2 linked regions of the Homo sapiens genome follow. The protein of the gene in region 1 interacts with the protein of each later gene in a pairwise test. Each region holds a gene or a part of one and is shown on either strand. Other genes may lie near its edges. The genes, in order: PPT1 and GPR75-ASB3.

Region 1 (15,592 bases):
AATCCTCCCACCTCAGTCCTCCAAGTAGCTGGGACTTCAGGCACGCTCCACCATGCCTGGCTAATTTTCTAATTTTTTCGTAGAGATGAGGTCTCACTGTTTCCCAGGCTGGTCTCTAATGATTCTCCTGCCTTGGTCTCCCCAAAGTGCTGGGATTACAGGTGTGAGCCACTGTGCCCAGCCAAGTTCAGCTTTTTCTCAAGGGGTAAAGGATAAACCCATTTGGTTACTTGCTGGAGTAGCACTTTGGAGTTACTGAGGGCTGCCCTTAGCCACTGTGCTGGTTTTATCTCAGGGCTGCTTTCTGGAGAGCTTTACAGATATTGTCTCACAGCTGCATTTGCAAGCAGGAAATACTTCTGCTTCCACTTCTGCTTTCTCTCCTTTTTTGGTAGAGGCCCTTTTAGTCTTCTGATCCTTACCCTTCTGGGTTTAGGAAGTTTTGCTGGCAGTAACATGGACTAATGCCCTTTATATAAGATTTTGTTCCTTTGTTGAGAATTTGTTACTGGCCCAATGGCAAAGGGTTCAATAGGACTTAATAGAAATTTTTCATGAAGTCAGTTAAAGTGAGAGTAAGGCTGCCTAGCCAATGCAGGTATTACGTAGGGCAGTCATTGCATGTCTAACCACATACGTCTACCAGTTCTGACTTCTCCATTGCTGGTTTTGAGCTGGAATGATTGCAGGCAAAATTTATTAAGTTGCATATCTACACAAGCCTTTCCTTTCTTCCATCCTTCATCAATCAACAAACATTTATTAACTACTCTTTTTAAGGAAAACTACACCTTCCTGTGAGTGAAATGTGTCCCAGAACAACAGGCACTTCCTTATCCTTCTAGCAACATGGAATTAAGCATGACAGTGTTTTGATATATCCCACCATTATCCCATCACTTTACAGTTGAGGAAACTAGGTCTTAGGCTAAATAACCTTCCCAGTTAATACATAAGAAGAGAGGGGACTTGAACCGTAGGCACAATGCTATTTCTATAATTTAAGGCTGATTGTTTCCCCCTAAGGGAAAGTTTTTAAGTTTGCTTTTGGTCAGGGTGGGCATATTTTGACATAAGGCATTGTCTCATAAGGCAGTTAAGTTTCTTAGTCTTTAGAGTTCCACAGTGATACTTAAGAGCTCTCCTCTCTACCATGGTTTTATGCACAGAATGTCTGCTTTTATCAGTTTTACATATTAGATTGTGTTTAAGGTCTACTTTGAAAAAAGTTTCAATAAGCAGCAAGTGGTCAAAAGAAAAAAAAAAGTTTTGGTACTTAAAACAGTTTGAGAAACATTGCTATGAGAGATAGAGATAGAATCCAGAGTCTCTATCTTAGTGGAGTTTGGTCTGATTAGGGTAATAGACTAGGTTGTATATACATAGAAGCTGGTGATGATAGAAAAGCTGCCATTGAGCGGAGCCTAAGAAACACCACGGGTAGGAGAATGTGAGCCCATAGGAAAGAAGGGTTCTGGAGTCACCACTGTTATGTACCCGGATCACCTGTGACAAGTTCTTCTTTAATCCTCCCAGGGATAAGAAGCATGTAGACTGGGTCAAAGCTTATTTAAGTATATGGACAGAGCTGCAGGCTTACATTAAGGAGTTCCATACCACCGGACTGGCCTGGAGCAAAACGGTTAGTGAATCCTTCCTCCCTCCCTCCCTCCCTCCCACTTTCTCTCTCCAGCATGGGGTCCACAGGTTTCTTAGACTTCAGCACTACCAAAGTCTGTGAGGGAATGCTAGTTTTTTCAGTGGAAGGGAGGAAGAAAAGGAGGAGAAAGAAAGGGTAAAAAGAGTAGAGGAAGCAAGGATCAGAGGAGAAGGAATATTCAGTGGTATTCAATTTCAATAAATATGTTAGGGACAGTGATTGGTGCTGGAGCAGGAGACACACACAAATGAGTTACACTATCCCAGCCTTTAAGGAGCTTAAAAATAAGAATGCAAAACCCCAATACAAATCACCAAGCCAAATGCTATAATAAAGATACAGACTAGAGTATGAGGAAGAGAAGAGTGCTTCTCACTAGAAGAGATTGTACTTTGAAGGTATATACTCTTCTGTGAGACTTGAAAGTAGTATAGGGCAGTGAGAAGTGGGATACTACAAAAGGCACAGCTTAAACAAAATACATGCAGAGTAAATGTAGAGATTGGTCATCTCTGGCTTCAATAAGGGGAAATGATCAGAATTTTAGGAGAAAAGGCTGGAAAGGAAGGTAGGCTGAGACTTTGGGATGAGGTATTTGAGCAAGGGAGTGATAATGATTCAATTTGTCTTTAAAAGAGTCTCAGTGTATAGGTTAGGGATAAGGACTCATGCTCAGATTATGAAAGTGGTCATGGTGTTTGGGGGATAGTAGAAAAACATTTGCAGGAGATAGCACCAAGATAATAGAGATTTGATAAGGTCGAAGAAGTTGGAATCCTCAAAGAAGATTGAATAGTCAGTCTTGGATAGTAACATCTTTCACTGAAATAGGGACAAGGGGATGATTGTACAGGGAGAGGAGCGGCAGGAAATGATGAAATCAGTTTTGAATCTGTTGAATCAGAGGTACTGGTAACACACTAAGGAAGATGTCAAGTAGATTTGTGGAAATAGTTTTTAGAGCTGGAATCAGGTGAGTTCAAAGGCAAAATGTGATGGTCAAGAAATAGAACTGAGAGCTGGATCCTTGGGAAAGGGTGAGAAGGCATAAAGCCAAGTTGGGTATGGGTAGGACACATTAATCATTGCCTCAAAGGCTGTGGTGGGGACCCCATGTGCACTGGCCCATGTAGGGCACTACTGGGAATGGTACAGAGGGGAGCAGAGAGGATGATGATGTTACCTGCACTTATTGTTCCAGGGGCCTGTGGCAAAAGAACTGAGCGGACTGCCATCTGGACCCTCTGCCGGATCATGTCCTCCTCCCCCTCCACCATGCCCCCCTCCTCCCCCAGTCTCTACCATTTCATGCTCATATGAGTCTGCTTCCCGCTCATCACTGTTCGCGCAGATTAATCAGGGGGAGAGCATTACACATGGTGAGTGAGCACTTGGACACGAACAGTAGGTACAACAAGTTGTGTGGGCCAGACCCCACCAACCAGAACCGTCTGTAAACTACAACCCTGGCTTGTGTGGTGGAGACTCGTTTGGTGTGTCCTGTTCCTTTAAGGGACGGCAAAGCTGGCTTAAATGGAAATTGAAAATGATGATCACAGTTGGAGGAAGCCATCTGCCCCATGGGAAAGTGACTTAATATTAGGTAGCATATATAGAGGACCCTCTTGTGCCAAGGCACAGAGCTGGCGGTTTTCCCCAGAGCTTTTTCCGTGGCACCACATGGCCTCTGGGAAGGCATTGTGTTAGGGAGTTAACTTCCTCAGAAGATGCATACTGGTTACATGGAAAATTTGCATGAGAGTGACCTAATGTTGGTATAAAGTAGATACCCTTAACACAGCTGGTGGAAGTCTGAGTTGTCCAGCCACTTCTAGGAATCTATGATCATAGTAGCTAAAAATGGTGTAACAACCTAAATCCAACTGTAAGAGAAATGGCTAACTACCACATGTCCTCTTGATGAAATGTTTTTTATTTTTTTATTTTTTTTGAGACGGAGTTTTGCTCGTTTCCCAGCCTGGAGTGCAATGGCGCGATCTCGGCTCACCGCAACCTCCACCTCCCAGGTTCAAGCAATTCTCCTGCCTCAGCCTCCCGAGTACCTGGGATTACAGCCATGCGTCACCATGCCTGGCTAATTTTTTTTTTTTGTATTTTTAGTAGAGATGGGGTTTCTCCATGTTGGTCAGCCTGGTCTCAAACTCCTGACCTCAGGTGATCTGCCCACCTCGGCCTCCCAAAGTGCTGGGATTACAGGTGTGAGCCACCACGCCCGGCCTCTTGATGAAATGTTGTGCCACCATTACATGTTTTTCTACAGTGAACCATGTAATGTTTAAGAAAAAAAAAATCTAGTATGTAAATTACAACCACAAGGAATGGTGGAGATAAAAAGGCCATTCAGTATTTGTTATACAGTTAACATAGATCTGGCCATGTTCAAAGCGAGGCGTGTGTCAGCCTGCTGTGGGAGATGATGAATTATTTTTCCCTTAAAACATAAAAGAAATATATTTTTACTTTTATTTTTTATTTTATTTTATTTTTTTTGAGATGGGAGTCTCACTTTGTTGCTCAGGCTGGAGTGCAGTGGCGTGATCTTGGCTCACTGCAATCTCTGCCTCCCAGGTTCAAGCAGTTCTCCTGCCTCAGCCTCCTAAATAGCTGGGACTACAGCACCTGCCACCACACCCGGCTAATTTTTTTGTACTTTTAGTAGAGACTAAAAATACACCATGGTAGCCAGGCTGGTTTTGAACTCCTAACTTCAGGTGATCCGCCTGCCTTGGCCTCCCAGAGTGTGGGATTACAGGCATGAGCCACAGCGCCTGGCCTAGAAAGATATTAAACTACAGGTTAACATGAGAAAGTTTTTAAGTGTCAATAGTTGAACTAAATTTGTTAACAATCTGTATGATTATAACCAACAAAACCAAATATATGTAGAAAACAATATTGTAGAGTTGCAAATGCCAACACTGACTGAGGAGGTGGGGGAAGTAGGGTTAGCTGTGGGGAGTGAGGGTATTTTTTTCTTTTCCTTTTACCAAATTTTCTTTACTACCACTCATTTTTCTTTATTGCTTTAAAAATTATATATTTGTGCACATACATTTGATATGTCTTTCTAGACATAGAGGATAAGGATTTACATATCCTTATCCTCACCCACAATATACACACATTCCATGTTGTTGTTAATGGAACCATATAATTTAATCTTGGGGAGAAGAGAAATGATAAAAGTACTTTTCCAAAACTGCTTGCAAGAGAACATCTCAAAGGCTCTGGTTTTGGCTTTGAATTTTCTGTTAAGGATGTTTAACATGACGATAGCAGCTCAAAGGTCTGGTATGAAGGACAGGAACAAGGTAGCTGTTGTTCTTACAGCCCTGAAACATGTATCTGATGACATGAAGACTCACAAGAACCCTGCCCTGAAGGCTCAGAGTGGTCCAGTACGCAGTGGCCCCAAACCATTCTCTGCACCTAAACCCCAAACCAGCCCATCCCCCAAACGAGCCACAAAGAAGGAGCCAGCTGTACTTGAACTGGAGGGCAAGAAGTGGAGAGTGGTGAGTTAAAAATACCTAGACAGGGGCAGGTATTTTTATTATTTTATTTTTTTGAGATGGAGTTTCACTTTGTCGCCCAGGCTGGAGTGCAGTGGCGCGATTTCGGCTTACCGCAACCTCCGCCTCCCGGGGAAAAGGAGTAGGAACAGGAGGTTAAATGGAGCTTAGCTAGATGAGGGCAGAGTTCTGGCTTCAATTGCAAGAACAAAAAGTTTGGGATAGCCTGGTTATTTTTTGTTCGGTGTGTGCTTTGTGATGAGAATCCTGGGATCTCTCTCTAACAGGAAAATCAGGAAAATGTTTCCAACCTGGTGATTGAGGACACAGAGCTGAAACAGGTGGCTTACATATACAAGTGTGTCAACACGACATTGCAAATCAAGGGCAAAATTAACTCCATTACAGTAGGTGAGTCTTTGTCGCTGTCCCACGCAAGCCCCGTCCCAGAGCCCGAGAAGGCTAATACCATTTTACCTACCCTATCCTTAAAGATTCCTAAATGTATATTACTTTCCTTTAAAGTTACACGTTGACACACTCCCTTTCTTCTCCTAGATAACTGTAAGAAACTTGGCCTGGTATTCGATGACGTGGTGGGCATTGTGGAGATAATCAACAGTAAGGATGTCAAAGTTCAGGTAACTCGATATTTTGGCTCCTTCTTTTTGTCCCTGAGGAATTAATTCAAAGAGACATGGTAGACCCACAGATGTTGCTTTGGTGGGAATCTGATTCTACAAAGTCTGTAAGCTGAGCTGCTTTGGACGTGGCAGAAGAAGGGTTGGCTCTTCAAGCAAGTTCTTTTCAGGACCCATCCCAACCCACCCGAGTATCCAGTGTCTTGCGCATCTGTGAGCTTTTCATGTAGTTGCTGAGTCACGTGAAACAGGAAACCTTTTCCTGCGACTTACTGTTGTCCTTCCCAACCACTGGGACTCAGTTCTCTTTGTTTACTCTGCAGGTAATGGGTAAAGTGCCAACCATATCCATCAACAAAACAGATGGCTGCCATGCTTACCTGAGCAAGAATTCCCTGGATTGTGAAATAGTCAGTGCCAAATCTTCCGAGATGAATGTCCTCATTCCTACAGAAGGCGGTGACTTTGTAAGTTTCTTGATCTCTTTAGTATGATGTTAAAAACAGAAGGGACTGAAGATTTCTGGCATTGAAGAAAGCTATTTTATGAACATTCTGCACTGAGCAGGTAAAAACCCAATAATGCACACCAAAAGTACACAGAAATGAGGTAGTCCCATGTAGTGGAGCCCCAAAGGTAGGTGCTTTCTGCCTAAGTGGAGCTCAAGGTAGCAAAAAATAATGGGGATGAGCCATGGCACCTTGTCAGGCTGGTGCTATAAAGCCATATGTACTGTTATTTACACCCCATAGACTTAATAGTCTGTCCAAGATCGCTGAACACTAGAACATAGCATGGCTCTGTGGGTTTGTCTCTTGCTACATTGTACCGTGCTCCTGGGGTTAAGTGGAAGCAAGCATTGGGAGAAATGTGTGAGATTTAGCCCCAGCTGTTCTTTAGCTCAGATTTAAACCTGCTGTCTCTTCTTTATTTGCAGAATGAATTCCCAGTTCCTGAGCAGTTCAAGACCCTATGGAACGGGCAGAAGTTGGTCACCACAGTGACAGAAATTGCTGGATAAGCGAAGTGCCACTGGGTTCTTTGCCCTCCCTTCACACCATGGGATAAATCTGTATCAAGACGGTTCTTTTCTAGATTTCCTCTACCTTTTTGCTCTTAAAACTGCTTCTCTGCTCTGAGAAGCACAGCTACCTGCCTTCACTGAAATATACCTCAGGCTGAAATTTGGGGTGGGATAGCAGGTCAGTTGATCTTCTGCAGGAAGGTGCAGCTTTTCCATATCAGCTCAACCACGCCGCCAGTCCATTCTTAAGGAACTGCCGACTAGGACTGATGATGCATTTTAGCTTTGAGCTTTTGGGGGTTATTCTACCAACAAACAGTCCATTGGAAAGAAAACAGTCCCTGGAATTAACAGATCAGAATGTTCACACTGGTTAATCTTTTTTTAACAATGAGCATGAAGGTAGCAGAAGCTGGTGTGTTTCCAGATGGTTCTTCTAACCAAACTAATTTTTCACTGTTGACAAGCGAGGCAAGGGTTGCACTGGACCAAAGGCTGAGGCTTGGCCATCTAGCATTCCATACAAAATTGTTTCCTATAAGCATTCCTTTTATTCTCTATTCTATCCTGGGTCTGCCTCAACCGTGAGATAGGAGAGTCTCTGGTACTAGCTGCTGTAGCAGTGCCCTTCATCCAGGGCAGTTAATGGAGTCTTGGACCCTTTCTTTCTCTGGGATCCCTGCCCAGCACCTTCCTATAGAGATGACTTTAAAAGGAAAAAAAAAAAAAAAAAAACCCACATGATTTCAAGGAGTCTGGCATTCCTGAATCCTTCTTCCCTGCCAGGTGCCTGTCACCTGTCTTCACTGCCTCCTTTTCCCTGTCATGCTCATCAGCTTATGGCTTCTGTCTAAGCACCTGAACAGAGGACTGAAACCTCCACTGCAGGCTGGTTTTAGGTCTTGAATTATGTAAGAATCTTGCACAGCACTGCTAATGTAAATTTCAGTTGTTTTTCCCTCTAGGACAAACACTTACCAAAATATGCAACTTTTTTTTGGTGGGAAGAGAGATTGTCCTGTGATTTCTACCCATTTCCTGAGGCCTGTGGAAATAAACCTTTATGTACTTAAAGTTATACAGAAAATAGAATAAAGTTAATACCAAACTTGCTTAGTTGTTTACCTGTGATATTGGCTGTACAGAAATGCAAAAAATACTGAAAACACCAAGGATAAGAAACTACTCTTTATTTTAGACAACCTCATAAAATTATTTTCACATCCCCCCCAACTTCTTGCTCTTAATCCTCATCTTTTAGTTGAAGAATAAGGCTTAAGAGAGAGAAAGGAAAAACCATAATGGCTAAACTTAGCAGCACCAACACGGTTCTTTCATCAAGGCGTAGCTCATCATTTCTCCAAACTGACATGCTACAGAAATGTCTTCCAAAAAGCGTTAAGTTTTCACAGAGTGGGGACTATGATTTCCATGCTCAAATAGTGTAGGAAATGGTAGATTACGTTAGTTTTGTTTACTGTAACAGGAATTCTCAGGAGTCCTTAGACACTCTAATGTGGGTTGATCTCCAGAAGGAGAAAGGGAGTGTGTAGTATTTTCCAAGCTTTTTGAGCAAACAATCCTTTTCTCATGGAACACATCAGAAACAGTTTGGAGTATGCTGGTAAATGTGTTTTGGGGATGGAAGTCAGAAAGCCTGATCTTTTTCATATGGTTCCTCCTATTCTCTGCTAAAGCCAGCAACAGAGTAAGTTGACTCTAGCATCAAGACCACTAGTCATATTAAGAAAGGGCAGGTTGGTCGAGAATGGAATAGGAAGAACTAGCTGCCTCACTTTTCACTTTCGCGCCTACATTTTCTTCGCTCCCTAAGTTATACAAGATGTACATTTCCTCTCTTAAGCAACTTAATTTGGGTGCTACTTCCCTCCTTTTGTGACAGCAACTAATTCATCACTACCTGAGGAGACAAAGTGGGTGCTGCAGAAGCAAGACTGTAGGCCAGTGGGATTTGTCTAATAATTGATGATAAGATGATAGCACAGAGGGCAACGTACTGAGAGAGGAAGGCAGCCTTAAGAAATGATGCAGAAATAGCCAAGCAAGATTTTTCCAAGCACTGGTTAAATCACCAGCAAAACAAAGCATTTATGTGAGTACCTCAGGCCTGGGCACCTCTTTGCTTGAAATATGGCAAGACTTGGAAAAATGTTTGCCCTTAGAATCTATCTCACTACTTTAGTTAGTTGTCTCCTTTGGGCCTGGGCACAGTTCTGGCACTGATCTGGAACAGACTCCCTTTTCTAAAACTGAACTTGACCACATCAAAAGTTTGTAAAACAATCTCCATGGTAATTAAACTTGCATTCAACACCATATGGTAACAGAAGATGGCAAAGGATAAGATTCAGATCTTAGATCTTTCCAAGTAGGGCATGTTAGATGATAGAAGGATTAGTTGCAAGCTGGATCTGAGCTCAGGCTTGGGCATGAAGGAAACTGTCTCCCATGTGGTTTGGAAGAGTTAGGGGCTCCCTGAGCTCTATTGTGAACTATACGGGTTTCATCCAAGGAATGGTATGATGTGGGCATAAAACCATTCTTCAGACAACTGAAGATGGTCCCCTTCTGTAGCCAGAAACACTAGCTGTCCTGCATTGTCCATTTCCTTTAGCCCCAGGCGGTCCTGCAGAAGGAAAGGCCATAATTAATTAAAAAGCTTAATGAAGTTTTGGAGTAAAATGGTAAGTACGTTAACTTGAGATATATTTTCAAAATGCAGTTTGTCCTGAGTATTAAAATTGAGGTGTATTTTCAAAAATGCCAAAAAGAATATCTCCTACTTCTTTTTCTTTCTCTTTTTTCTTTTTCTTTCTTTCTCTTTCTTCCTTTCTTTTCTTTCTTCTCTCCTCCCCCTCCTCCTGTCCCCCCCGCTTCTTCTTCTTCTTCCTCTCTCTCTCTCTGTCTCTCTTTCTCTTTCTTTCTTTCAAGACGGAGTCTTGCTCGGTTGCTTAGGCTGGAGTGCAGTGGTGCGATCTCGGCTCACTGCAACCTCCACTTCTCTGGCTCAAGCGATTCTCCTGCCTCTGCCTCATGAGTAGCTGGAATTACAGGCGCATGCCACCATGCCTGGGTAATTTCTTGTATTTTTAGTAGAGATGGGGTTTCACTGTGTTAGCTAGGATGGTCTTGATCTCCTGACCTCAGGTGATCCACGTGCCTCGGCCTCCCAAAGTGCTGGGATTACAGGCGTGAGCCACCACACCCGGCCAGTTTTTTCTAAGTATTAAAAATAGATATGCAATTGAGATTGCTCTATACAGTGTTCTAGATTCTGATTTTTGAAAAGCTCAGAGTCAGAGGACTACCTATAGGTGGGCAAGCCATAGACGACACTGCCTCAGAATGCCATAGGTAAGTGGGACTGAGCCAAAGACAGAACATTAGCTAGGTAACTTAAAAAACATCCAACCCAGGACAGGCGCGGTGGCTCACGCCTATAATCCCAGCACTTTGGATGGCCAAGGCAGGCGGATCACCTGTGGTCAGGAGTTCAAGACCAGCCTGACCAATATGATGACACTTTGTCTCTACTAAAAATACAAAAATTAGCTGGGCATGGTGGCGGGCACCTGTAATCCTAGCTACTTGGGAGGCTGAGACAGGAGAATTCGCTTGAACCCGGGAGGCGGAGGTTGCAGTGAGCTGAGATCATGCCATTGCACTCCAGCCTGGGCAATGAGCAAAACTGTCTCAAAAGAACAAAACAGAAAAACCATATCCAACCGTTAGGTAACAAACCCTGGACACTTTCATATTCTGGAGTTGAAAATGTCATTACCCATAGCCTAGATGCTGGAGAACAACCTCTGGTTGGGAAGATAAGCAGTTACGACAGTGCCAGAATGGTGCTTCTGCCGTGGCCAACATCATTTTGAGTTTTCACAGTAAGGAAGTTCTTAGCTGTAATTTCTCAAGCCTTTTTTTTTTTTTTTCTCAAATCAGATTCTAGCTTCCCTTTTTACCTCACCACCCAAGTTGAGGCACCCAGTGCAAAAGAAAAGCCAAGCCAAGAGGAGACAAATGACCTCTGAAATAACATGGAGGAATTCTAGTAGACGGTGATTGGTTCAGATGTAGTACTTAGCATTTTGGAGAGTCTGTCTCCAATATAAAATCCTTAGGGCTGGGCGTGGTGGCTCACACCTGTAATCCCAGCACTCTTGAAGGCTGAGGCAGGTGGATCACCTGAGGTCAGGAGTTGAAGACCAGCCTGGCCAACATGGTGAAACCCCGTCTCTACTAACAAAACAAAGTATTAGGCATGGTGGCGTGTGCCTGTAATCCCAGCTACTAGTGAGGCTGAGGCAGGATAATCGCTTGAACCCAGGAGGTGGAGGCTGCAGTGAGCTGAGATCACACCATTGCACTCCAGCCTGGGTGACAAAGCAAGACTGTCTCAAAAAAAAAAAAAAAAAAAAAAAAAAAAAAAAATCCTTAAAGTGTAGAAGGCCCCAGAACTGGAGGTGGCAAATTACTGCAACTTCTGCTTAAGATACAGGACCTACTGCTAAACAAAATTCAAAACTCTAGTCCCACTCAACCTCCTGCAGGAGCCTCCCTTGTCAGTGCGTAATTTAGAAACAGGATTTCACATCTATTAATGTTTAAAAGTAATGTCCCTTGGCCAGGCGCACTGGCTCACGCCTGTAATCCCAGCACTTTGGGAGGCTGAGGTGGGTGGATCACCTGAGGTCAGGAGTTCAAGACCAGCCTGGCCAACATGGTGAAACTCCATCTCTCCTAAAAATACAAAAATTAGCCAGGTGTGATGGCACACACCTGTAATCCCAGCTACTAAGGGGGCTGAGGCAGGAGAATTGCTTGAATCTGGGAGGCAGGGGTTGCAGTGAGCCAAGATTGCTCCACTGCACTCCAGCCTGGGTGACAGAGCGAGACCCCGTCTCAAAGAAAAAAAAAGGAATGCCCCTCATCATGCATGGAGGCTTCCTGGATTTGTAGCAGACTGTACCTCAGCCAAGGCAGCTAGTTTTAAAACCTTTTTATCAAAAGAAGGGAATCAGACATGAGGTTTCTCTTGTTGTTTGGAAACCATAAGGTTTCAGGATGTAGTGGATTTTTGTAACCCAGTGCCTAATAAGCTAGAGCACATAATCAAGAGCCTAACAAGCTTCACCCATATTGGACATGAGTCAGGTGTTTCAGGAGTACCTAGTGCTCTGAGGTGTAAAGGAAAGGGCTCCAGCACCAAAGAACATAGCAGCTTCAGGAACTGGGAGCTGAAAAAACACCAACCTCCCAAGATAGACTCCCTGCCAGTTACCTGTGTGTACAGGGAGGTCTCCTGTAAGGGAATGGTTTCCTTGGCTTGGCCACTTCTGTAAAATCCAAACCACTGCAGAAGAAGCAAAGGAAAGAAGCTCAGATATGACACACAGCACATACTGCCAAAATAATTTGAGACTGGTTAGAAGCTAAAACTGCCAACAAAGTGAACATCATAAAGCTGTAGGAAGAAGGAAAAATGGATAGGGTGCGTCTGAGTCATCTCTTCTTAAGGGTGGAGCCCGAGGGATGAGTTAATCTTTCTGAGAGGCCGCTTTCCACTTCCCCAGAATTTCTGCTTCCTAAAATTATTAAGCAATAAATGTGAAAAATTCCTGTGCTGAGCTCTAGACATTCAAGGATGAATACATAATCTGTTTCCAAAAAGCTCCCAGTCTTGCAAGGCACGGAAACAATTCACTGTTGAGTACAGAGGTCAGCAAACGTTTTTGTAAAGGCCAGATACAAAATATTTTAGGCTTTAAGGGCCATATGGTTGTAACTACTCATTGCTGCCACTGTAACAAATGCAGCCACAGACAGTATGTAAAAAGTAACTAAAACTGTTCCAATAAGGACACTGAAATTTAAATTTTACATAATCTTTATATGTCCAAATACTTGATATGTCTAAATAAATTTTACATAATCTTTATATGTCCAATTCTTTCCCCCAACCATTAAAAAATGTTAAAAACATTCTTTTATGTTAGTGTTTGGTGTTACTCGTGGGTAGCACCAAAACGGGTAGCAGGATGGACTGGGCCTGTGGGCCACAATCGGCCAATCCCTGGTGGTGTGACATAACGTGATGAGTGTTTTAACAGAGGCTGATGATTCTAAAAAAGCGATCACATTCTGCTTGGAATGGGGATGGCATCCTTGCCTTGACAGACGAATAGAAATTGTCAGGTGGAGAAGCCAAGGAAGGGCATTCTAGAGACAGAAATATATGAACCAAGGCATACGAGAGAAAAAGCACAAGTAGTACAATATGGCTTGATCAAGAGTGTATGAAGCGTGCAGACAAGGCAGATTAGGCTGGAAAATGGGGTGAAGCCAGATCAAGGCAGACCTTGGAGGCCAAGCTTAGGAATTTATATATTTTGGGCTAGTGATTCTGAACATTTTTTGGGTCTCTGATCTCTGGAAAATGGATTAAAATTATAGATCCTTCCCCAGAGAATGTAATTACATAATTTTGCATAGAATTTTGGGGTTGGGGGATTGATTACAATCTTCAGTGTCCCATTTATGGACCTCAGGTGAAGAACTGTTTTATACAAAAGTTGGTGGAAGGGACTGAAGGTTTTTTCCCCAGCAGGCAGCTGTATTTTTTCATTTCATTTCAATTTCATTTTATGTTCTTTTTGAGACAGAGTCTCGCTCTGTCACCCAGGCTGGGGTGCAGTGGCACGATCTTGGCTCACTGCAAGCTCTGCCTCCTGGGTTCAAGTAATTCTCCTGCCTCAGCTTCCCAAGCAGCTGGGATTACAGATGGCTGTCACCATACCCGGCTAATTTCTTTTTGTATTTTGAGTAGCGATGGGGTTTCACCAAGTTGGCCAGGCTGGTCTTGAACTCCTGACCTCAGGTGATCCACCCGCCTTGGCCTCCCAGAGTGCTGGGATTACAGGCATGAGCCACCGTGCCCGGCCAGCAGCCCTATTTTAATGCCATTTACTCTCCTGGCATGTGGCCTAAGTAGTGTCTCACCTCCGAATCTACAGGGTCCACAATGGAATCATTGAGGAATTTCACCATCACAAACTTCTTCAGGGCCATCAGGTTTTTCTTGTAGGACTCATTGATACCCTGAAAGAAAGGCCAGCAACACCTAAGGTCATTACCATCAGACACCAGCAGAGGGAGTAAAGCCTTCCTGTTTTCTGGTCTCCCTGACCCTGTGCCACTGTGTTTCTTCCCCATGGGTATGGGCTGTTTTCCAGCTTCCTGACCAGGATATACCTGTACAGCTTTTTTTTTTCTTTTTTTCTAAAAAACAAAATATTTTATTTTAGATTCAGGGGGGTACATGTGTAGTTTTGTTATAAGGGTATATTGTGTGATGCTGAGGTTTGGGGTTCTGTTGATCCTTTCACCCAGATAGTGAACACAGTGCCCAACAGGAAGTTTTTCAGCCCTAGCCTCTCCCTCCCAGCTTTTGGAGTCTCCAGTGTCTATTGTTCCCATCTTTATATTCACGTGTACCCAATGTTTAGCTCCCACTTATAAGTGAGAACATGTGATATTTGGTCTTCTGTTTCTGTGTTCATTTGCTTAGGATAACGGCCTCCAGCTGCATCCATGTTGCTGCAAAGAACAGGATTTCATTCTTTTTTATGACTGTGTAATATTCCATGGTGTATATGTACCACATTTTCTCTATCCAGTCTACCGCTGATGGGCACCTAGGTTGATTTCATGTCTTTGCTATGGTGAACAGTGCTGCAATAAACACGAGTGCAAGTGTCTTTTTGGCAGGACAATTTGTTTTCCTTTGGGTATATACCCAGTCACGGGATTGCTTACACAGCCTTTTCTTTTCCTTTTTTTTTTTTTTTTTTTTTTGAGATGGAGTCTCGCTCTGTCACCGAGGCCAGAGTGCAGTGGCACCATCTCAGCTCACTGTAACCTCTGCCTCCCAGGTTCAAGCGATTCTCCTGCCTCAGCCTCCAGAGTAGCTGGGATTACAGGTGATCGCCACCACATCCAGCTAATTTTGTATTTTTAGTAGAGACAGGGTTTCACTATGCTGGCCAGGCTGGTCTCGAACTCCTGACCTCAAGTGATCTGCCCACCTCGGCCTCCCAAAGTGCTGGGATTACAGGCGTGAGCCACCACGCCCGGCCTTCTATAGGCTTTTCTTACCATCCTATCTGACTGACATGCCACTGAGCATGGCATACAGGTACAACTATGAGTTTACACCACACTCCATAGGTGTCCATCACATAGGTGAGAGGCTTCTAGTCAGAGAAAGCCAAGACAAAATAAGAAACTGCAAATTCTGGGTCGTTCTGCTATATACTATTCTGTGTTGTTTTTTGTTTGGTTTGTTTTTCCCTTCAAACTGTTTCAAAACAAAAAACCAAAAGACTCTCCAGATGAGTCAAATATAAACTGAGCCATCTAGTTTACCAGAACCTACCAAACCATGTTTGTGTCTGGGACATACTCAGTGCCTACTGTATCTCTCTTTTAGGTAAATCTCTAGAGAAAAATCCACCCCCAGACTGATCCATCAGGAAAGCTTCCCTCATTAAGACAGCAGCTGTGAATTTCCACCTCGCCCAGTCAGCAACCTGCCGAGCTTATCCTGTGTGTTTCAACACTAGGAGAGGGAAAGAACTTAAGGGAAGAAAGGCAAATGAATTTCAACCTCCCTAAAGGGAACTGAATCTCAAAGGCCCTGCCTCCCAAAAAA
Region 2 (15,592 bases), on another chromosome or scaffold:
AGATACATTCCTTCAATGCCTAGTTTGTTGAGGGTTTTGTTTTGTTTGTTTTGTTTTTATCATGAAGGGATGTTGGGTTTTATGAAGGCTTTTCTCACATCTGTTGAGATGATCATATAGTTTTGGTTTTTAATTTTCTTTACGTGGTGAATCCCAATTATTCATTTGCATATATGGAACCAACCTTGTTTCTCAACAATGAAGCCTACTTGATCATGATGCATTAACTTTTTGATGTGTTGCTGGATTTAATTTGCTAATATTTTGTTGAGAATTTTTGTATCTATGTTCGTCAGCACTATTGGCCTGTACTTTTCTTTCTTCATTGTGTCTTTGCCAGATTTTTGTATTAGGGTGATGCTGGCTTTGTAGAACAAGTTAGGGAGGAGTCTCTCCTCCTTGATTTTTGGGAATGGTTTCAGTAGAATTGGTACTGGTTTTTCTTTGTATGTCTGGTAGAATTCGGCTGTGAATTCATGTGGTCCAGGACTTTTGGTTGGTAGGTTTTTTTTTTTTTTATTATGGATTCAGTTTTGGAACTTGATATTGGTCTATTTCAATTTCTTTCTGATTCAGTCTTGAGAGATTGTGTGATTTATCCATTTCCTCTAGATTTTCTCATTTGCGTGCATTGAGGTGTTCGTAATAGTCTCAGAGGATCTTGTGTATTTTTGTAGAATCTATTGTAATGTCAACTTTGTTGTTTCAGATTGTGCTTATTTGGACCTTCGCTCTTTTTTTTATCTAGCTAGCAGTCTGTCAATTTTGTTTATCCTTTCAAAGAACCAACTTTTGGTTTCATTGATCCTTTGTATGGATTTTTGGGTCTCAATTTCATTCAGTTCCACTCTGATTTTAATTATTTTTTTTCTTCTAATAGCTTTGGGGTTAGTTTGTTCTGTTTTTTCTTATTCCTCGAAGTGTGATATTGGATCATTAATTTGAGATCTTTCTTTCTGAGCTAGATGTTTAGCATTATAAACTTCTTAACACTTTTTGCTGCATTTTAATATGTTCTGTGTCTGTTTTTATTTATTTCAAAGAATTTTTTGATTTCTGCCATAATTTTATTGTTTACTTAAAAGTTATCCAAGAGCAAGTTTGTTTGTTTGTTTGTTTGATTTTGAGACAGAGTCTCACTCTATCGCCAGGCTGGAGTGCAGTGGCACCATCTAGGCTCACCGCAACCTCCGCCTCCCAGGTTCAAGCAATTCTCCTGCCTCAGTCTCCTGAGTAGCTGGGACTATAGGCACACACCACTATGTCTGGCTAATTTTTTTTTTTTTTTTTTTTTTTGTAGTTTAGTAGAGATGGGGTTTCACCACATTTCCAGGCTGGTCTCGAACTCTTGAGCTCAGGCAATCTGCCTGCCTTGGCCTCCCAAAATGCTAGGATTACAGGCGTGAACCACTGTGCCCAGCCAAGAGCAAGTTAATTTCTATGTAATTGTGTGGTTTTGGAAGATCTTCTTGGTATTGATTTCTATTTTTATTCTACTGTGGTCTGAGAGTATGGTTGGTATTAATTCAGTTTATTTATTTATTTATTTATTTATTTATTTATTTATTTATATTTCTGGAGACAGGGTCTTGCTCTGTACCCAGACTGGAGTGCAGTGGCATGATCTTGGCTCACTGCAACCTCCCCCTCCTGGTTCAAGCAATTCTCCTGCCTCAGCCTCCTGAGTACCTGGGATTACAGGCGCGCACCCCTGTGGCCAGCTAATTTTTTTGTATTTTTAGTAGAGATGGGGTTTCATCGTGTTGGCCAATTTGGTCTCAAACTCCTGACCTTCAAGTGATCTGCCCATCTCGGCCTCACAAGTGAATCAGTTTTTTAAATTTATTGAGATGTGCTTTTTGGCCGAGCATGTGGTCTGTCTTGGAGTATGTTATATGTGCTGTTGAGAAGAATATATATTCTGTGGTTGATGAGTGGAGTGTTCTTTAGATGTGTATTAGGTCCAATTGGTCAAATGTTGAATTTACACCCAGAATTTGTTTTTTAATTTTCTGCCTCAGTGATCTGTCTAATGCTGTCAATGGGATTTGACATCTCCCAACATTATTGCTATCTCTATAGATCTCTAAGAGCTTGTTTTATGAAACTGGATGCTTCAATGTTGGGTGTGTGTATATTTAGGATAGTTAAGTCTTCTCATTGAATTGAACCCTTTATCATTATGTAATTACCTTCTTTGTCCTTTTGTACTGTTGTTGGTTTTTTTATATATAATTTTTTCTTGAATAGAAATGGGGTCTCACTGTGTTGCTGTGAACCCCAAATATCTGAGAGAGATCTCAGTCAATTTAGGAAGTTTATTTTGCCAACATTAAGGGCATGTGCCTGTGACACAGCCTCAGGAGGTCCTGGCAACATATGCCCAAAGTGGTTGGGGCACAACTTGGTTTTATACGTTTTATACATGAGACATCAATCAACATATATAAGATATACATTGGTTCTGTCTGGAAAAGCGGGACAACTCAAAGTGGGGAGAGTATGTCCAGGTCATAGGTAGGTAGGAGACAAATGGTTGCCTTTTTTTTTTTTTTTGAGTTTCTGATTAGCCTTTCCAAAGGAGGCACTCAGATATGCACTTATCCCAGTGAGCAGAGGGATGACTTTGAGTTTGAGTTCTGTCTGTCCTTCGTCCACAGGGAAATTCCTTGTGAGGGAGGTACGTAACTTTTTCTAATCTTAGTAGCTATTTTTTAGGAATAGAATAGGAGGCAGGGTTGCGCTAAGCAGTTCCCAGCTTGACTTTTCCCTTTGGCTTAGTGATTGTGGGGGTCCCAAGATTTATTTTCCTTTCACATTGCCCTGGCTGGTCTTGAACTCCTGAGCTCAAGCGATCCTCCCCCCTTGTAAGAGTTAAAGAAAGAGGAAAGAAACACAAAAGATGGGTTGGCAGTTAAAGACAGGTTTACTTTAGATAAAACCTGAGAAGGGTTTCTGGCTGATTTCGATCAGGAGCACTTTCTCTTACAGGCTAAGTACATGAGTATATATTGGTTTTAGGGTGAGGGGGCTTATCACAAGCTTGGAGTGTTTATGTGTGGGGGAGAAGTTTATGGTGAGGTTGGAATGTCTCTGGGTGAAGGGGGGATTATCTTGGGGCTGACGTCTTTCTAGAAGGAAGGGAGTTATCTCGGGGCTGGCATCTTCCCAGCCAGAGCAGGGCAGCTAGCATGTCTCTGGTCGCAGAGGAGTTTGGCATGTTCCTGGTCGGAGATGCTTTTTTTGTTTATGATCATGCTGATCTTAGCCATTTAGGCTGATGCGCTTTGGATTTAGGAAGTTTTTGATTAAGGTGAATTGGAAAATAACAGTGCTTGTGCAAGATGGTGATACTCCTGCTCTGTCATACTTCGGCCTCTCAAAGCTCTGGGCTTATAGGCGTGAGCCACTGTGCCTGGCTCTGTTGTCTGATTTAAAGTCTGTTTTATCTGATATAAGAATATTGACCCCTGGTTGGGCGTGGTGGCTCACGCCTGTAATCCCAGCACTTTGGGAGGCCGAGGTGGGTGGATCACGAGGTCAAGAGATCAAGACCATCCTGGCCAACATGGTGAAACCCCGTCTCTATCTGCTAAAAATACAAAAATCAGCTGGGCGTGGTAGTGCATGCCTGTAGTCCCAGCTACTCGGGAGGCTGAGGCAGGAGAATTGCTTGAACCCAGGAGGCAGAGGTTGCAGTAAGCCGAGATCGCACCATTGCACTCCAGCCTGGCGACACGGCGAGACTCAGTCTCAAAAATAAAATAAAATAAAATAAAAAACTAGTGACCCCTGACCTTTTTTGTTTTCCATTTGGTTGATAAATCTTTTTTCAACCCTTTACTTTGAGCCTATGGGTGTTGTTACATGTGAGACGTGTCTCTTGAAGGCAGCAGATGGATGGGTCTTTTTTCTTTCTTTTTTTTTTTTTAATCCAAATTGCAGCTGTGTGCCTTTTAGGCAGGATGTTTCGTAAAAGGCGAAAGATTTGTATGATCTGAAGAGACCCTTTACATTCAAGGTTAATATTGATATGTGAGGTTTTGATCCTATTATTAAGTTGGTAGATGGTTGCTTTGCAGTTTCTATTGTATGATTGTATTATGGGGTCTTTGGGCTATGTACTTCAGTGTGTTTTTGTGGTATCAGTGTTGTTCTTTCATTTCCATGTTTAAAAGTCCCTTAAGGATCTCTGCTAAGACTGGTCTAGTGGTAACAAATTGTCTTATCGCTTGCTTGTCTGTAAAATATTTTATTTCTCCTTCGTTTGTGAAGCTTAGTTTGGTGGAATATGAAATTCTTGGTTGTAGTGTCCTCTCTTTAAGAATGCTGAAAATAGACCCCCAATCTCTCTTGCCTTGTAAGGTTTCTGCTGAGAAGTCCACTGTTCCTTTTGTATGTGATCTGACGTTTTTCTCTAGCTGCCTGTAAGATTTTTTCTTTAGTGTTAACCTTCAACAGTCTGGTGACTGTATGCCATGGTGATATTCACGTTCACAGAGAGTTCTCTGTATTGCTTCTATCTGGATGTCTTCCTCTCTGGCAAGATTAGGGAAATTTTCTTAAATTATGTCCTCAAATATGTTTTCCAGGTCATTTACTTTTTCTCCTTCTCTCTCAGGAATACCAATAATTCATAGATTTGGTTGCTTTACATTATCAAATATTTCTCAAAGCCTTTTTCATTAAAAATTTTTTATTTTTATTTTTATCTGACTGGGTTAGTTTGAAAGACTGATCTTCAAGCTCCAAAATTCTTCCTTCTGCTTGGCCTAGTCTATTAATAAAACTTGCAGTTATATTTTGAAATTCCTTAAGTGAGTTTTTCAATTCCAGAAGCTCTGATTGATTCCTTTTTAAGATGTTTATCTTAAGATGCCTTCATTTCCTGAATTGCTTTAGAAGTTTCTTTGTGTTTATTTTCAACCTTGTCTGGATCTTGTTGAGCTTCCTTGCAATCCTTGCTTTGAATTCTTTATCTGTCATTTCTGAGTTTCCATTTGGGTCAGGAACCATTGCGGGAACACGACTGTGATCCTTCAGTGGTGTCACTATATTTAGATTTTTCACAAATCCAAAATTCTTGGGGTAGTTCCTTTTCATCTGGAGATGTTCACACTTCTAATTTTTGTAATTATTTTCATGCAGGTGGGATTTTTTTCTTTTTCTTTCTTTCACTATAATATTATTGTTTTTCCCTTTCACATTTATGATTTTAAATATCAACTCAGAAACCTGTTGAAAGAGACCCTTTTTCTCTGATTGTAGGCATTATTTATCATGCAGTGGTTATGAAGAAAGAGATGTAATAGAGAGTATAGTCAATATTAGTTTTAAGGCGTGGCTCCCATATATGTCATATCTACTGATAATTTTTCATAAATCTTAGCCTGAATCAATTAGTGGCATAATTTGGATTTTATCTTTTTCAGCAGTTATCAGAAATATTATCCATGTTTGATAGTTTGCATTTTTCTTTTTAAATGTTTACTTATTGGGCCCCAGAATGCTTGTTGGAGGAGGGATTGGAATGAAATGTATCCTTCATTGAATAGGATTTTTGTTTTAGCTTAAAAATGAATTCTAAGATATGAATCACTTGTTTTCTTGCTGACGTAGAGGCAAGACCTTTTTATTTTTGATAGAGACAGGGTCTCACTATGTTGCCCAGGCTGGTCTCAAACACGTGGCCTCAAGCAATCCTCTGGCCACAGCTTCCTAAATTGCTGGGATTCCAGGCATGAGCTACCCTGTCAGTTTAGCGAAGACAATTTAAATGATTACCAAGAAGTTAGCAAAGTAAATATGTTTATATAACAACATCCAACATTCAGTGAAGAGGGAAAAGCTTACCGTGCTACGAAACCCTTTTATGGTAGTTCCTTTGAAATTTGTGTTGATTTTTTTAAGTATTAGGGTTATCTGTTAAATGTTTTATTTTGTACCCTTAGGTGCAAATGTCAATTGTCAAGCCTTGGACAAAGCTACACCCTTGTTCATTGCTGCTCAAGAGGGACACACAAAATGTGTGGAGCTTTTGCTCTCCAGTGGGGCAGATCCTGATCTTTACTGTAATGAGGACAGTTGGCAGTTACCTATTCATGCAGCTGCACAAATGGGCCATACAAAGTAAGTGTTAAAAACAGAAAATAAACATGGTCTCTTAATCAAAAGCTAATAAAGAATAAATCTGGGCTAGACCCTTCACCTCTAGGCAAAGTCTTTGATATTCTCTTCCCTACCAATCTGCTGGGTGAACAGATCTACCCCTAATCTGTCCTTCATGCTGTCTTTTGCTCCTACTATTCCTGCACTTTCATATTGTGAGGCAGAATTGCTACAGACTGGGTAGGCTCAGGGACTTTCTCGGGGTGTTGACTCTTCCCATTGATTTCTCTAGTTATGGCTGTATCCGCCGCCTCCTCCTCCCTAGTTTTATCCCAGGCATCTTTAAGCATCAATCTGATGAGGCCATCCATGTTACCTCTCTGACCCCAGAAAGCTTTTGAGTTTGTGATGCCTGTTGGAGTGTGTGCTAAGTAGTCCTCCCTGTCTTAAACCCTTTGACTGAACTTTTCTTGATCTAACCTCAAATTGGAGAGAGAGTAAATGGGGGTTCCAGGAATCTTAGAAGCTAGTAACTTGGTTATACCTGTGAGAATATGGCTACCTATCATAAATTGGCAGTCAATGATTTTTAGAAATATATGTGAGAATATGGCTACCTATCATAAATTGGCAGTCAATAATTTTTAGAAATACATGTTTAGAATCTTTAGAGCCATAATTCTATAATAGCACTTTTTATAGCTGCTATTAGTATTATTTAATTTAAAAAGTAATAGTAAAATATTCATTACTTAATTTAGTTTGTTTACATAGTAGGAAAACAGATTCTGCAATTTGGTCATTATGCCACTAGGTGACACAGTACTTTACTATTTCATTAATGATATTTGTAAGCATGTTTATGTCTTGTGGGAGAGTATAATTTTTCCCACCTACTTAAAAAAATTAAACACATTTATTAAAGTTAAGAGACATTAGACTATTTTAACAAAATACTTAGATTTAAAAATTTGATATTTTCCCCAATTCTTGATCATTTATTTAAACATAAGTGTTAGATATTGTACTCTGAACTTTAAATGGTACCAAAACTCTCCTGGGCATTTGTTCTCAATTTTGAGAATTCTCATTGTCACTGATGATTTTCTTTATAGCCTACTTCAAAGGTAACCCCTTTTGTGAGTGTAAGTTCTACTTAAATGTTATCTTAGACATACATTACATGAGGAAAAGTCACAAAGAGAAATGTAATACTATGAAAATACTTCAGAGTAGCCCTGTCTGTCTTTTCCCAGAAAGAAGGAATTTCCTGGCTTTAACTATACAGTTTTATTTTTAATTTTAGAAGGGTAGAATAGTCCTTTTTTCTTTCCAGTTGACTGCTAGAGGTAAGTTTACAAATAACCTAAGAACTTTTGTTTTAATTATTTTCTTAGAACTTTCTCTACCTAGGAGCCAGCTTCTTTATAAATCTGCCTCCATATTTAATGAGCTCACTTTTTTTTCAGATAATAGAATATTTTAGCACAAATTATAATTTCTTCCTGATGAAAACATTAGTCTTAATTTCATGCCAGTTATCATCTTTAAAAATTTTTACTAATTGGAAAAGAAAAACTAGTTGGTACTTTAAGAAGGAAAATAGTGCATTTTCTTGATGCCAGTTTATACTTAGTAGAATGATGTTTTAAATAATTTATTAAACCCTAAAATATCTAACATAAAATTTGAATTTTGGGGGTTAAGGTGGTGCTAGTAAGGTAATAAAATTAAAAGAGCACCTTTTCTGTTTACATATAGGAACATTAATTTTGTTTCAAATGTATTTAAAGACCTTTTTATTAAGCAATAATAAGTGTAACATTCTGGAGTAAATATATAGCATGTAATAGTTTAATGTTGTTGGTAGAAGGTACACCCTAGACAGAAATATTTCTTTAAATGAATCAGTTGGTAATTCTGAAAAAAATTGTGCTATAGAAATGTTGCCTACATTTATGCACATATACAAACACTAAATTCTCCTGAATTTGTGTATTTATAGAATCTTGGACTTGTTAATACCACTTACTAACCGGGCCTGTGACACTGGGCTAAACAAAGTAAGCCCTGTTTACTCAGCAGTGTTTGGGGGACATGAAGATTGCCTAGAAATATTACTCCGGAATGGCTACAGCCCAGACGCCCAGGCGTGCCTTGTTTTTGGATTCAGTTCTCCTGTGTGCATGGCTTTCCAAAAGGAGTATGTATATTTGCTATGTTTTTATTTTTTATTCTTTTTTGCTGTATGGAGATGTGTTTTGAAGTGACTTTCTTTCACGATGAAACTTAGTATCTCTGTTAGTGCTAAATTGCTATCTTGGAACACAAATAGGAAAAAAACTATGATGTTTCAGTCAAGCTGAAGCAGAAATGAGGTGATAATATCACATTGTTTTCCTTCCTTCTTTGGATCTGGATTATATTTTTAGTGTAGCAATCTTAGGGAATACGTACAATTTAAGTAGACGCAGAAATTTGCTGATATTTTTGGTCTTCAAAACAATTCAAGAATTAAAAATGGGGCTTTATCAAGTAAGGCAGTGACTGCTTCAGGTCATTTACCGTTTCAAATTTATAAGATATAAGCCTAAAAATTAAACTTTAGTTTTATAGATATTATTGTGTTTTTAATGTATTTGGTGGATAGCATTAAAAAAAATTTTTTTTTTTTGAGACAGGGTCTCACTCTGTGGCCCGGGCTGGAGTGCAGTGGCACCATCTTGACTCATTGCAACTTCTGCATCCCAGGCTCAGGTGATCCTCCCACCTCAGCCTCCAGAGTAGCTGGGTCTACAGGTGTACACCACCACTCCCAGCTAATGTTTTTATTTTTAGTAGAGATGGGGTTTCTCCATGTTGCCCAGGCTGGTCTTGAACTCCTGGGCTCAAGCAGTTCCCTTGCCTCGGCCTCCCAAAATGCTGGGATGTCAGGCATGAGCCACGATGCCTGGCTTTATATTATTTTTGGATGTGAGTCTAAATAATTAAGTTTTTAAACGCCCCCAAATTAATTATTTTTCTAATCTGTCATAATTCTGTGAAATAGACTAAGTGAAGAATTACTGCTGCCTTGTTAGTGTCTGGCCAGTAACTTTGTCTATAACACTCTTACAGTTTTAAAACACTAAGAATAAAGCTGTGTGTAAGAACAGCCATATTGAGTAATATCTGGTCATCCAATAATGGAATAAGTTATGAAGATAGATGCTATTGTGTTTAATGACACAGAAGAGGTTGCAGGCATACCTCAAATTGTATTGGCCTTCTTGAATTCACTATTATGAATCTCTATTTAATTTGAGTAGTTATCAAGAAATTATTTACTAAGCTTTTCAGCCTTTACTATCTCTTAACATTTGCCATGTAAAATTAGTAGTTCACTATAATTTGTTTCAAGTTTAAGCTTACACGTTTTAGTAGAGATAGGGTTTCACCAGCCTGGTCTCGAACTCCTGGCCTCAAGTGATCTGTCTGCCTCCAGCCTCCAAAAGTGATGGGATTATAGGTGTGAGCCACCCCATCCGGCCTCTTAAACTTATACATTTTAGTTTGAATATTTGGGTTTTGGTTAATCTGAGTATCTGGGGCCCACTTTATGTATAACTTTCATGATTTCATAGGATTTTCTTGTGTACCCCGTTAAGTTTTGTCTTTTTAAACAGAAGAGCCCTAATTACTTTAGTTGACCTTCAGTGAGGTTGCACTGATAACTTTTAGTTGCCTTTCTCTATCCCAAATCTTAAGTCCGTTACAGAACTGAACATTTCTTATTAGACCAGAATATAATGATTTTGGATTGCGCGCGCGCGCGCGCCTGTGTGTGTGTGTGTGTGTGTGTTCAATATGATGATGGTCTTTTTTGGCCTTCATCTTATCTTTTGGATGAACAATGTTTTTGGTCCTTCTGGTCACAGCAGCTAAGCTCACGCCTCATCACCTTATAAGTGTAGTTTGAATTAAGCCATATAATGTAGTACCCCTGTTAACTCTGAAACACCTTAAAATTAATGATATTCCTTGGGAGCTGGGCAGTATGTTTCATGCCTTCTGTAGATTCGGATAAATGAAATTAGGTGGGAAAGATCTTAAATAGGTTTCTGGATTTTCCAAGATTAGTTGAAATTTTAGGGGGCAGACCCTTTTTTCTCCTTTGATTTCTACAAAATCAGTCAGTAACACTAATTGACCATTTTGTTATGTAGAGAGCACTAAATAGATCCTGTTAAACTTACTGAGGAAGCTGAAACATACACACGATCCTTTAGGAATTTAAAACCTAATGGGAAAAACAGTATTTAGTGGCATTTACTTCACTATCTTCTGCTGTCTTTGGCAAAGAAGCGTTTTTAATGTATTTTTTTTTTTTTGTATTTTTTTATAGAGACTCATGGAAGGGAAGGTTCCTATTTTTTTCTGCTGTGTCTGGGATAACTGCAAATAGGAGCTATTATCTCATTCTTGAATAGTGATATAAATGATTTTTTTTCTTTTCCTTTCACAAGTACTCCAAAGTTGTATTTTTAAGGAACTCCACAGTTTGGTTTGCTTTTTATGTCTCAGTTACTCTGTAGAATTTTTTTCTGTGTAAACTTCAGTGATGCTAAGAAGTTCTTAACATGCAGTGGAGTAATTCCACTACAGCCTCTCTCTTTCTCTCTAATGACTACAAAAAACTGTGGTCAAAATTCAAAAAGAAACTACCTGAGGACTCTCAAAGGAACAAAAGCAGATAGATTATGAAAGAGAGTGGTAACTTGGTGAAGTGACCCACATGAAAACGAATTTTCCCATTTCTTTTTCCTTTTTTTTTTTGAGACTGTCTCGCTGTGTTGCCCAGACTGGAGTACAGTGGCGCGATCTGGGCTTACTGCAACCTCCATCTCCCGAGTTCAAGTGATTCTCTTGTCTCAGCCACCCAAGTAGCTGGGATTGTAGGCATGTGCCACCATGCTCAGCTACTTTTTGTATTTTAAAAGAGATGGGATTTCACCATGTTGGCCAGGGTGGTCTCAAACTTCTGACCTCAAGTGATCTGCCTGCCTCGGACTCCCAAAGTGCTGGCATGAGTCACCGCGCCTGGCCTTCTTTTTCTTCTGCTGTGTTGCCCTGAGGGCCAACCCTGATCTGGAGCTGAGTAGCACCAGTGGCACCAGCAGCTAATATCAGTCAGTAACATTAATTGACCAGTTGTTTAATATAGAGAGCACTAAATAGATCCTGTTAAACTTACTGAGGAAGCTGAAACATAGACACAATAGAAAGCCTGTTTTTCTGGTCAGAGGAATCAGGTAAATGGAACCCTGTGGGCCAGAGAATGGTAGGGAATCTTGGAGAAGAGAGAGCTTGGAGAAGCGGATACCCTAATTGTGCATATGAATTTGCATATTCCTGACTTACCCCAAGCTTTAAATGCACAAGATAGACCCAAATTGTTTTTTATTTTGTTTTGTTTTTGAGACAGGATCTCATTCTGTTGCCCACACAGAGTGCAGTGATATGATCATGACTCACTGCAGCCTCGACTTCCCTGGGCTCAGGCAATTATCCTGCCTCAGCCTCTTGAGTAGCTGGGACTACGGTTGTGCGCCACCATGCCTGGAATTTTTTTTTTTTGTATTTTTTGTAGAGACAGGGTTTGCCGTGTTGCCTAGGCTGGTCTTGAACTCCGAGCTCAGGTGATCTCCCTGCCTTGGCCTCTCAAAGTGCTGGGATTACAGGCGTGAGCCACAGCACCCAGCCAACCCAAAATGTTGAAAGTAAGATTTGAACTATCATCAGAGTCTCAGGCTAGACCCTGAGTGGCACATTCATGGGTCCAAGCTTAAAGCAGGAAAGTCAAGGCTTTTGAGAACTGAGCTGACGTTGGAACCACTGTATAAGGTAAAACAGAAATTGCAGTTTGAACCTAACTAGGTTATATGCTTGCTGAAATAAACAAACCAAAAAGCTAGTGTTCTTCAAAGGATTATAACAAGACCCAGGACTCAGAATTTATACAGCATAACATTCACAATGTCCAGGAGACAACCTAAAATTATTTGACATATGAAGAACTGATAAAACATTACTAAATCTCATGGGAAAAAGCAATTAATAGATGCCAGTCCTGAGATGGTCCAGATATTAGAAATATCAGATAATTGAAAGCAGCTCTTATAATGGTGCTTCATGAGGCTAACACACTGGAAAAAATGAAAAGGTAGAAATTCTCAGCTGAGTAGTAGAAACTATAAAAAAGACGGAAAAATACAATAATCTGCAATGAAAAATTTACTACATGGACTCCATAGCCAAATGAAAGATATAGGAAAGAGTAAATTAACTTGAAAGTAAACCATTAGAAATTATTAACAAAGGGGAAGACATGCTGTCTGGCAGCTGGAGCGTGCAGACTGGCGTGGCACAGCCATGCAGCTTCTGGAGTTTCTGTTGGTTAGAGATTCAGGAGTAGCTTGGTGGGCAGTTCAGGCTTGGAGGTTTCTCTTATAGTTGCATTAAATATCAGATGAAGCTACAGTCATTAGCAAGCTTGACAGGAGCCAGGGGATCAACTTCCACAGAGGCTCACTGACATGGATCACTCATATGGCTGGGTGTTGGCAGGAAACCTCGGTTTCTCTCTATAAAAGCCTCCCCACAGGACGGCTGCAGTATCCTCATGGCATGGTAGCTGATTCCCTCAGAGGAAGAGGTCTAAGAGAGAACAAGACGGAAGTCACAGTGACCTGGTTCATTGAAATTATGGCTGTCACCTCCGCAGATCACATACACAAGCCCTGATTCAATATGGAAAGACTGTACAAAAGCACAAATAGGAGGAGGAAAGGATGATTGGGGGCCATCTTGGAGGCTAGCTGTCTCACACATTATCTCTGAAATTGCTGTTTTTTAATTTTGAAATTTTCAAACATATGTAAATGTAAAGAAATTGGTACAGTGAACTCCCATAGACCCATCATTCATATTCAGTAATGATCAAGGAAATGCCATCATTTTATTTTGTACAAATATCCCTGAGAAACATGCTCTTTCCACCTCCAGCCTTCATCTAAACATCTTATACTAACTTTCTTTAGATTTCAGTGTTCCAGGCTCTCTCCTTCCCTCCTCTTTCTGGTATGTTTATGGGGTAGAGGCAAGACCAATGCAAAGAAAGAAGGCCCTTTATGCTGGGCATCTAGGCTTTTTCAGACATCCTCTGAAACCTAGGCAGAGTCTCCCAAACCTCAACTCTTAAATTCTGTGCACCCACAGGGTTAACACCATGACCATGTGGAAGCCACCATTGTGACTTGTACCCTCTGAAACAGTGGCCTGAGCTGTACCTGGGCCCCTTTGAGCCATAGCAGGAGTGGCTAGGATGCAGGGACTAGTGTCCCAAGGCTGTGGAGGACAGTGGGGCACTGGGCCTGGCCCATGAAACCATTCAGTCCTCCTAGGCCTCTGGGCCTGTGATGGGTAAGGCTGCTGGGAAGGTCTCTGAAATGCCTTTGAGGCCTTCCACCACCCCCTGGTGGTTTTGGCTATTAGCACTTGCCTCCTTTTTACTTAATGCAAATTTCTGAAGTCTGCTTGAATTCCTTCCCTGAAAATAGGCTTTTCTTTTCTACCATTTGCCAGGCTGCAAATTTTCCAAACTTTTATACTCTGCTTCTCCTTTAAATGTAAGTTCCAACATTAGGTCCTGTCTTTGCTCATGCATATGAGCATAGGCTCTTACAAGCAGACAGGCTGCTTTGCTGCTTAGAAGTTTCTTCCACCAGGTACCCTAAATCATCACTCTCAAGTTCAAAGTTCTACAGGTCCCCAGAGCAGGGGCACAGTGCATTCAGGTTCTTTGCTAAGGCATAACAAAAGTGACCTTTGCTCACTTCCCAGTAAGTTCTGCTTTTCCATCTGAGACCTTGTCAGCCCAGCCTTTACTTTTATTCACTATCAGCACTTTGGTGACAACCATTTAACCAGTCTTCAGGGAGTTCCAAACTTTCCCTCATCTTTCTGTCTTCTTCAGAGCCCTCCAAACTCTTCCACTCTCTGCCATTACCAAGTTCCCAAGTTGCTTCCACATTTTTAGGTATCTTTATAGCAATGCCCCACTCTTCAGTGCCAATTTTCTGTATTAGTTCGTTCTTGCATTGCTATAAAGAAATACCTGAGACTGGGTAATTTATAAAGAAAAAGGTTTAATTGGCCCATAGTTCCACAGGTTGTACAGGAACCATGATGTTGGTGTCTGCTCAGCTTTTGGAGACACTTCAGGAAACATAATCATGGCAGAAGGCGAAGTGAGAGCAGGCTGCTTCTTACATGGCAGGAGCAGGAGCAAGAGAGTGAGTGTGGGAGGTGCCACACACTTTTAAACAACTAGCTCTCACAAGAACTCCCTACTGTGAGGACACTACCGAGGGGGATGGTGCTAAACCATTTATGAGAAACCCATCCCCATGATCCAGTCACCTCCCACCAAGCCCCACCTTCAACACTGGGGATTACAATTCATCATGAGATTTGGGTGGGGACACAGATCCAAACCACATCAGTAGATCTAGGGTGGGGACTGATATTCTGCATTTCTTTCTTTTTCTTTTCTTTTCTTTCTTTCTTTCTTTTTTTTTTTTTTTTGAGACAGAGTCTGACTCTATCACCCAGGCTGGAGGGCAGTGACACCATCTCGGCTCACTGCAACCACCACCTCCCGAGTTTATGCAATTCTCGTGCGTCAGCCTCCTGAATAGCTGGGATTACAGGTATGTGACACCATACCCGGCTAATTTTTGTATTTTTAGTAGAGATGGGGTTTCACCATGTTGGCCAAGCTGGTCTATAACTCGTAAGCTCAAGTGATCTGCCCCCCTTCACCTCCCAAAAGTGTTGGGATTACAGGCGTGAGCCACTGTGCCCGGCATACTCTGCATTTCTTTCTTTTTTTTTTTTTTTGAGACGGAGTCTCGCTGTGTCGCCCAGGCTGGAGTGCAGTGGTGCGATCTCAGCTCACTGCAAGCTCTGCCTCCTGGGTTCATGCCATTCTCCACCTCAGCCTCCCGAGTAGCTGGGACTACAGGTGCCCGCCATCACGCGCAGATAATTTTGTTTTTGTATTTTTAGTAGAGATGGGGTTTCACCATGTTAGCTAGGATGGTCTCCAACTCCTGAGCTCCAGTGATCTGCCCGCCTCAGCCTCCCAAAAGTGCTGGGATTACAGGCGTGAGCCACCACACCTGGCCCATACTCTGCATTTCTAACAAGCTAACAAGATGGTGCCAATGCTGCTGATCCACAGACCACACTAAGTAGCAAGAGTCTAGAGCTGTGCTGCCCAAATTGGTAGCCACCAGCCACATGTGGCTATTTAAATTAATGAAAATTAAGTAGCGTTATAAATTACTTCTTCAGTTTCCCTAGCCACCCTTCAAATGCTCAAGAGTCATGTGTGGCTAGCTACCCTACCGAATAGCACATCATCACAGAAAAGTCCGCTGCA

What was found.
Region 2: the proteins of PPT1 (region 1) and GPR75-ASB3 interact in binary tests that used the Homo sapiens proteins (3 or more experiments, as listed by UniProt).

The regions. Positions count from the first base shown.
Region 1 is NC_000001.11:40,064,679-40,080,270, forward strand, and holds the end of PPT1 (palmitoyl-protein thioesterase 1 isoform 1 precursor), read right to left. Parts: intron 13,981-15,592; coding exon 13,882-13,980; intron 12,236-13,881; coding exon 12,164-12,235; intron 9,506-12,163; coding exon 9,383-9,505; 3' UTR 8,034-9,382; downstream 1-8,033. Other genes in the region: CAP1 (adenylyl cyclase-associated protein 1), read left to right, coding at 1,537-1,642, 2,862-3,039, 5,012-5,196, 5,481-5,604, 5,752-5,834, 6,158-6,301, 6,772-6,855. UniProt on the Homo sapiens protein: Has thioesterase activity against fatty acid thioesters with 14 -18 carbons, including palmitoyl-CoA, S-palmitoyl-N-acetylcysteamine, and palmitoylated proteins. In contrast to PPT2, PPT1 can hydrolyze palmitoylated proteins and palmitoylcysteine.
Region 2 is NC_000002.12:53,707,103-53,722,694, reverse strand, and holds part of GPR75-ASB3 (GPR75-ASB3 protein), read left to right. Parts: intron 1-5,951; coding exon 5,952-6,129; intron 6,130-8,113; coding exon 8,114-8,311; intron 8,312-15,592. Other genes in the region: ASB3 (ankyrin repeat and SOCS box protein 3), read left to right, coding at 5,952-6,129, 8,114-8,311. UniProt on the Homo sapiens protein: Probable substrate-recognition component of a SCF-like ECS (Elongin-Cullin-SOCS-box protein) E3 ubiquitin-protein ligase complex which mediates the ubiquitination and subsequent proteasomal degradation of target proteins. Recognizes TNFRSF1B.